2 linked regions of the Homo sapiens genome follow. The protein of the gene in region 2 interacts with the protein of the main gene of each other region in a biochemical or structural test. Each region holds a gene or a part of one and is shown on either strand. Other genes may lie near its edges.

What was found. Proteins that work in one complex are often made in the same cells at the same time.
Region 1: the proteins of EML1 (region 2) and TUBB3 form a complex in vitro, tested with the Homo sapiens proteins (one study listed by BioGRID).

The regions. Positions count from the first base shown.
Region 1 is NC_000016.10:89,922,068-89,926,141, forward strand, and holds the start of TUBB3 (tubulin beta-3 chain), read left to right. Parts: upstream 1-1,274; 5' UTR 1,275-1,334; coding exon 1,335-1,391; intron 1,392-4,074. UniProt on the Homo sapiens protein: Tubulin is the major constituent of microtubules, protein filaments consisting of alpha- and beta-tubulin heterodimers. Microtubules grow by the addition of GTP-tubulin dimers to the microtubule end, where a stabilizing cap forms.
Region 2 is NC_000014.9:99,894,413-99,897,912, forward strand, and holds part of EML1 (echinoderm microtubule-associated protein-like 1), read left to right. Parts: intron 1-216; coding exon 217-346; intron 347-2,732; coding exon 2,733-2,882; intron 2,883-3,500. UniProt on the Homo sapiens protein: Modulates the assembly and organization of the microtubule cytoskeleton, and probably plays a role in regulating the orientation of the mitotic spindle and the orientation of the plane of cell division.

The DNA of each region.
Region 1 (4,074 bases), on a different chromosome or scaffold from region 2:
CCAGCAGCAGCCACACGAGCACACTGTGGGGCAGGGAGGGGCATCTCTTGAGAACAAAAGATCCATTTCTCGACTTTCCAAACTGGAGAGCTTCTTGAGAGAAAAGAGAGAGACAGGTACAGGTCCACGCCACCCACACACAGCCCTGTGCACACAGACCGGACACAGGCGTCCACAGGCAAGTTCGCAGCTGCTCATTTTGTGAAGTGAATGCTGATTTGGGGGCCGGGTGGGGTTCGTCTGTACATCGTGCACTGTCAGACCCTTCCTGAAGGATTTTTGTTACTGAAGTATCAGAAGGCCCTTGTTCTAAGGTGGTGGCACTGTAATATCTGGCCCAGGAGGAGGTCAGTGCCGTGCCGGCGAGTCCTTTGCTCCCTTCCTTCTCTGACCAGTAAACGCATCTCCAGTCGCTCCCCCGAGGCCCCCCTGCACGCAGTCTCCGACCTCAGAGAGTGAGTCAGATAGAAGCCGCTGCCCACCCTCCCCCACCCTGGCCGGGTTCTTGCCTGGCTTGTGCGTCCTTGTGACAATTCCTGACACGGATGCGCACCGGGCAGTGGCACGTCCAGGTGCTGTGCGCGCCCGGGCCCACAAAGCTCCTTTGGACGCTCATGGCAGCCCCTTGGTGGAGGAGGTCGGGTGCCCACCCCCTCCCCGCCCACTGCGGAAGCCGGCGACCCACGGAGCTCGCTCTCGGCCGCCGCCACCCCTCTGTGTTCGCGCCCTTCCGAGCTCTGATCCGACGCTTTGTTTCTTCTCAGTGGGTTCAGGGCCTGGGCCAGCCTTTACCTACCTCCCCCACCCAAAACCGGCAAAAGCTCAGAGCACCTTGTCTGCCAAAAGACAGGGAGCTGGGATGGTGCGGGTTGGTCTCTAAACCGGCGTGGGGAAAAAAGACCCTCCGTACAAAGCCGCAGGGTGGGGCTGTCGCAAGGGCGGAACCGAGAGGGTAGCTGGGGGCGGGGTTCCCAGGGCCAAGAGGGGCCATTGTCCTCCCTGGAGCCCGGCGCCCCCACAGCCAGCTCCTCTGGGAGACAGCCCCTCCTTTCGAATGCGCGGGGCCCTCAGACCGCGCCCGGCCCAGCGCTGGGGGATCCTTGGCTGCGGGAGGGGCGCCGCATTGCGCGCGGCGGGCGGGGACGCGCGGTGCGGAGCCTGCGGGCCGGGCGGGGCTCTGCGGCGGCGCCTCCCGATTGGCCACCCGCGGTGACATCAGCCGATGCGAAGGGCGGGGCCGCGGCTATAAGAGCGCGCGGCCGCGGTCCCCGACCCTCAGCAGCCAGCCCGGCCCGCCCGCGCCCGTCCGCAGCCGCCCGCCAGACGCGCCCAGTATGAGGGAGATCGTGCACATCCAGGCCGGCCAGTGCGGCAACCAGATCGGGGCCAAGGTGAGGCTGCGCGCCCCGGCCTGTCCCGGGCCCCGGGGCGGGAGGAGGGAGGCGCCGTGCCCCGCGGGCCGCACCTCCAGCTGCCCCCGCCCCTGCGAACCTGCAACAAAGGGATGCGCCCAGCGCCGCGCCGGGCGGCCGGGACGCGGGGCCCCCGCCCTGGGACTCTCGCCTGCACCTCTCTGCCCCTGCCCAGGTGACCTCGGGCTGTCGAGGCGCAGCTCACGTCAGTCGCGAAGCCTCAGCCCCCTCCACACCTGCGCCCCCTCCACACCTGCACCCCCTCCACCGGGCCTCCGCAGGTGCAGCTGGGAGCCCTGTCTGGGCGTGGCCCTCTTTTTTGGGGCCGCGGCATAGCCTTGAGTGAGACGGGTGGGGTAGGCAGGTTTGGGTGGGGTGGGGGGTTCTCCTCACAGCCGTGATTTCCTCGGCCCGAACCCCCCACTGGAGTAGCCGAACGTCCCCCGAGAGGCTAGAGCCGCCCCGATTTCCCCAGCCTGCTCCGACACCCCTCGGCGTCCTAGCTCCACCCTGTCCCTTTGTTGGAGGGGTTGGGCCTGGACTCGAGATGACCTTGGTCCAGGACCAGGCTCTCCATCGGCGCAGCCGCTCCTGGGCAACCCCCGCGGGGCTTGACCGCGCCCACCCAGGGTCTACCAGTCTGGGGATTGGATGTGGGAACAAAGCCGGGCTGTGGGGTGTGGAGGCTGCACCGTGGCGCGCCCCTCCCTCCATTGTTAGCCCACCTCGCAGATGTTGGGGCCACGCAGAAAGGGGCGTTGGTGCAGCTGTGCAGGGACCCCTGCCTAAATCATTAAGGGGACGTCGTGTCCCCTGGTCCTGGGAGGCTGTCCCTGGCCCAAGGTCACACAGCAGGTGCGAGAGAGCTGGGCTGGCCCTTGGTTCTCATCCCCTGCAGGAGCCAACCTGGGGCTCGGGCGGGGCGGGTTGGGGGCGCTGCTTGCCAAAGGATCTGCCCTCCGAACAGTGTTGGGGAACAGGGGATCGGGGGGGGAGGCTGGCTTTGTCAGGACCAAGGCCAGGGACCCAGCTCAGGGCTGGTGCAGCGCTGATTCTGGGAAGGAGGGGGTGCAGGAGACGGTCCTGGAGGGGAAGGGGCCAGAGAAAGGCAGCCTCCGGAGGCTGTTGCCATGGAAACCAGGCAGGAACAAAAAGCTAATTACAACAGGGCCAGCCACGTGGCTGACATGTAAATTGCAACTTTGGCTCCGGGTGGAGGCGCCTCTGAGGGTGGGAGGCCCAGTAGTGGGGAGACTCTAATCACCCAAGGAGACAGCTGTGCCTGCCAAGGAGAGCCTGGGGGAGGGGAGACCTGGGGGACAGTGGCCTCAAATCAAACCAGGACTCCCGGAGCAGCCTCTGACAGCTGCCTTGGCCTGATGGGAGGGGCTGAGGGCTCATTAATGTGGTCACTGGGGCCAAGCCTCCCCTGAGCATCTGCTCCTGGGAGGGTCAGGGGTCGCTGGGGGGAGGGAGGGCAGGCAGCCCTGGGGCTCCTGGGAGGGTCAGGGGTCTCTGGGGAGAGGGAGGGCAGGCAGCCCTGGGGCCCACCTGGGGTTTCTCCTTCTATGGCTGGGATGGGCCCAGAGCTGTGGTCCCACAAGGCACTTGTCAGGCAAGAGCTGGGATCTAGAAGTCAGGTGCACATGCAGACATCCCCTGAGGCTCCACGGGTAGCAGAGGGAGCCCTTGTCCCCTGGACCGTGTCCTTGGCTGCCTTGTGCTCTGCTTCTGAACACTGGAGCTCTTAGTTTGCCCGCTACTTTTTATTCCTTTTGAGTTGTTTGTTTTTTCTTAATATATTTCTTTTTAAAAATTAATACCTGGCCGGGCACGGTGGATGAGGAATCTCATGTAATCCCAGCACTTTGGGAGACTGAAACTGGAGGATCACTTTAGCGAAGGAGTTCAAGACCAGCCGGGATAACATGGTGAAACTCCGTTTCTTAAAAAAAAAAAAAAAAAAATTAGCCTGGCGTGGTGGGCCGCGCCTGTAGTCCCAGCTACCTGGGAGGCTGAGATGGGAGCATTGCTTCAGCGTGGGAGGTCGAGGCTGCAATGAACTATGACCGCACCACTGTACTCCAGACTAGGCGATAGAGTGAGATCCTGTCTCACAGTAATAATAGTATCTGATTCTTTTTAACAATGAAAGCAACAGAGAAGGAAATTTTCTCGGGGGCGGGGGCGGCAAGAGCGTGTTCCTTTGCTCTGCTGCCCTTGTGGAATCAATGGGAAGTTCCTTGGCCGTTCTCGGCCTCCACTCCCGCAGCTGATAGGGGGTGCAACGCGGCTGCTTCCCTGTCTGGGGTCCTCGGGCGGTGCCTGGCTGGGCAGGAAGGCCCGTGCACTCTGGGCAGAGGGAAGTCGGGGTGACTCGAGGCCGGGAGCAAAGCCGGGTCCCGGGCGGTCACGCGGCAGCGCGGACGACTCACCGCGGTCACCCCTGCGCTGGGAGCCGAGCCCCCGGCAGCTCGCGGGGATGCAGTAAGCCGGGCGCAGCCCGCCGGGAGGATGAGAAAACCCGAAGCCCGGAAAGCCGAGCGGCCGCCTGCAGTCACCCCGGGGGGGGCAGGGGCGGGCCGGGCTATGCAGAAACACCGGGGCCCGCGGGACACAGGACGCTGCCCCACTGCCGCAGAGCTGAATCTGGACCCCCGGG
Region 2 (3,500 bases):
TGTACTTAAGTAAACAGAATATCAAAAGCAAACAAGATGCAAACTTTTGTTTCAAACTGTTTATTTTTATGTTACTTTTTTCCCTAGGATATCAATTAGAATGACAGAAGGGTAAAAGTTTCTCTTTTATACTGAAAGGCTAGAGAGGATAAAGCATTTGTTTTCAGGTACGCTGGGCACTGAGGTATCTTACTGAAATCTTTGTTCTTTTTGTAGAAGAAGGCTATGTAAAAATGTTTCTTCGTGGACGCCCTGTTACCATGTACATGCCCAAAGATCAAGTGGATTCTTACAGCTTGGAAGCAAAAGTAGAACTTCCAACCAAGAGACTCAAGCTGGAATGGGTGTATCCTTTATTCATTGATTAGGTCTCACATGAAGTTATCAGTCAATCAATGCTTGATGTTAACTGTAGAAATTCATAAAACTTAAGTCCTCTTAAGCTTTTAAAAAACAAAATGTTTTACTGTTACTTTTGAAAACTTAATGTAACAAAATTGACTATATGTTAGAGACCTACAGAGTTCTAACAAAGTAGGAGCTTCATAAGAGCGGCTTATTATCAGGAGAACCAACTTATCATTCCTGAACGAAATAGCTGTGGTTCTGGCTCAAATACATGTTCATTATTTTGCTGAAAAGAAAATATGAAGATGTTATATGATTGTATGAGTGATTTTTTTCTTTGTCAGGAGAAAATGAATCACTAGTTTCTGGTCCGAATTTTATTCTTTCCAAAAGAATGACAATAGTAGTTAGAAATATATAAAGAAGTGAACAGTGAAAATAATCAAGAATGGGTAGAATTTTAGATTCTAATGAGAACTGATTTTTTTTTAAGAGATAGTCTCTCCCTATGTTGCCCCAGCTGTTCTTGAGCTCCTGGACTCAAGCAATCTGCTCGTCTCAGCTTCCCAAAGTGCTGGGATTATAGGCATGAGCCACCATGCCCAGCCAAAAGCCAATTATTTTTAACAGGAGCTATCATATACTTAGTCAACTCTTCAGGGACAGATGGAAAACTAGGCACTCTCTATATTTATAAGGAAACAACAGTGACAATGCAAGAAAATATTGTCCTTATGATTGAGGAAATGGGAGTATCCAAAATTGAAACTAAACCACATTGGCAAAAAAGTTTTTAAACCCAAAGAAAGAGGGGTACTCTGAAAGGAGGACTAGCATTCTCCCCTTAAACCAAGTATGGACTTGGCCAGCCTTAGGAGCCAAACTTCAAGTGTGACCTTGACTGAAGGGATGATAGAAAAATATGAATACCAAAGTACTGAATGAAGGGAGTCAAGTGAATGACGTAAATGAAATTGACATATCACGTAGATATCATCCTACTTTAAAAAAAAAAAAACTAGCTACAGGGATGCATCCCTGTAGTCCCAGCTGTTCAAGAGGCTTAGATGGAAGGATCCAGGAGTTCAAGTCCAGCCTGGGTAACTTGGCAAGTCCCTGTCTCAAAAATACATATATTCATATCAATCAAAAAGGCTCCCCAAAAATCTAGGCCACAAAAATCTGAATCAACCATATAACTAACGTTCTTGAAACAGAGGTGCTGGTAGCTTCATGGCATGAGGTTTGGAAAAGTGAGCTTCCAGGGGAAAAAACAACTGAAAGATAAGAAAATAGAAACTGTGAAAAAGGTGAATTAATTGTTGATTATTTTTCCATTTTCTTATTACTTTAGAGGAATCCTGCAGAGACCACCTTTCAGTCTATGCAGATTTTAAGGGAAAAAAAAAATTTTTTTTCACCTTCAAATATTTGAGTACCTGTTTAATGCCAAGCCTGGAACACAAATTATAAGATGTTGGTTTAAATTTAAGCTATTGTGACTTCATTTAGAATAATTACTATTTGAGATTATGGAATCATATTCCTTAGAAATTTTTTAAAATTACCACCTGTACCTAAATTTCTCCCCCAAAATACTTTTTTTTTTTCCAGATTCAAATGTCATAGGCATTTACCTGCACCTGTTTTGGAATCTATCTTGATACATGAAATTGAAGTGCTTCAGCTCGTCTTTAAGTCAGTAGTGGTTTATTAAACGGTTATATCACATCTGGAAAACATTATTCAAAACATTTATTCAGCCTACTTCCTGTTCATATTTTAGAAGATGTAAAGCAATGAAATTTGCTCTAAATAAATGGCATTTTTTTGGCCATTATTTGGCATCTTGCCGGGTTACTTTTTACATCCAAGTTGAAGTGATATTTTGTTCTCAAAATAAAATAATTTTCAAGGTTTGGAAATATAATGCAAAAATTTTAACAGGGATTCTTATCCCAAAGGATCTGAGGGGCCTGATTTTTTTTTTTTTACCTTTTATGTATGTTTGTGTGCATGTGTGTGTGTCATTTGTACCCTTTGTAAGTACTTTTACCATGTTTAAAAAAGGAATTTTTTAGTAAAAATTTAGCTCGTAGATTACAGTAAAAAAATTAATAATTGACTCAATAGCTTTCTAAAAATAAAACCAAATCATTGTGAAAATATGTATTCACATTACATCAATGACTGTTTCAACTTTACTGCATGCCTTTTGGGGGTCACATGTATTTGTCATGGAATATTTGCAATTTAATGTTGTTTAAATTAGTGATGCTGATGGTAATAGTTATATGGTATTTTATTGCCTGTGCCTGTTGAATAAAGCTGATGTTTTGTCAGCTCTTAAAGGGAAAAAAAATTTTATCTTGACATCCACAAAGCTATGGGTACAGGGGTCGAGACTGCCGTAACAACCTGTACTTGCTTCCGACGGGAGAGACCGTCTACTTCATCGCATCCGTGGTGGTGTTATACAACGTGGAGGAGCAACTGCAGAGGCATTACGCTGGCCACAACGATGACGTGAAGTGGTAAGTCCTGAAACAGGTCATTCCTGCGACTCAGAAGGCGAAGGTAGGAGGATCGCTTGAGGCCAGGAGTTCCAGACCATCCTGGGCAACAGTGAAACCCTGTCTCTAAAATAAATAAATAAATAAATGTGATTCCTGTTGCACAGGTGGAAATAGCATTAGCAGAACACGGTCAGTATTGGGACATAACTAAAGAGAAGGAAGAGGGTCTGAGGAAATGAGGTCTTTGGGAGAGCTCTTCTGTGTGGTCTCCTTGTGGTCCGCTCACTACTGCGCTCCGTGAGACCCCTCTCATGTTTAATTTTCCAGCCTCACCAACGCATGAGCTTCACGGACCACATTGTCTCAACAAACAGCGCCACCTCTTTGGAGGCCTTCTTAACACATCATGTATTAAAGGCTTCTAATTTGGGTCTTTATTTTTTGATAAACATAAAAATGTGTTGCCTCATGTTTGTGGCTGAGTCGGCTCTTCCCATAATTCATTTATAGCTTTTGGTAGGCATATTACATATCTTGGAAGGATGGATGCGTGAAGAGATGGATTTATATATTTGTATTTGTCCTGGTTCCTTGGTCAATGATAAAAATCCTGTTCACGAAAGATGGTATCTTTCC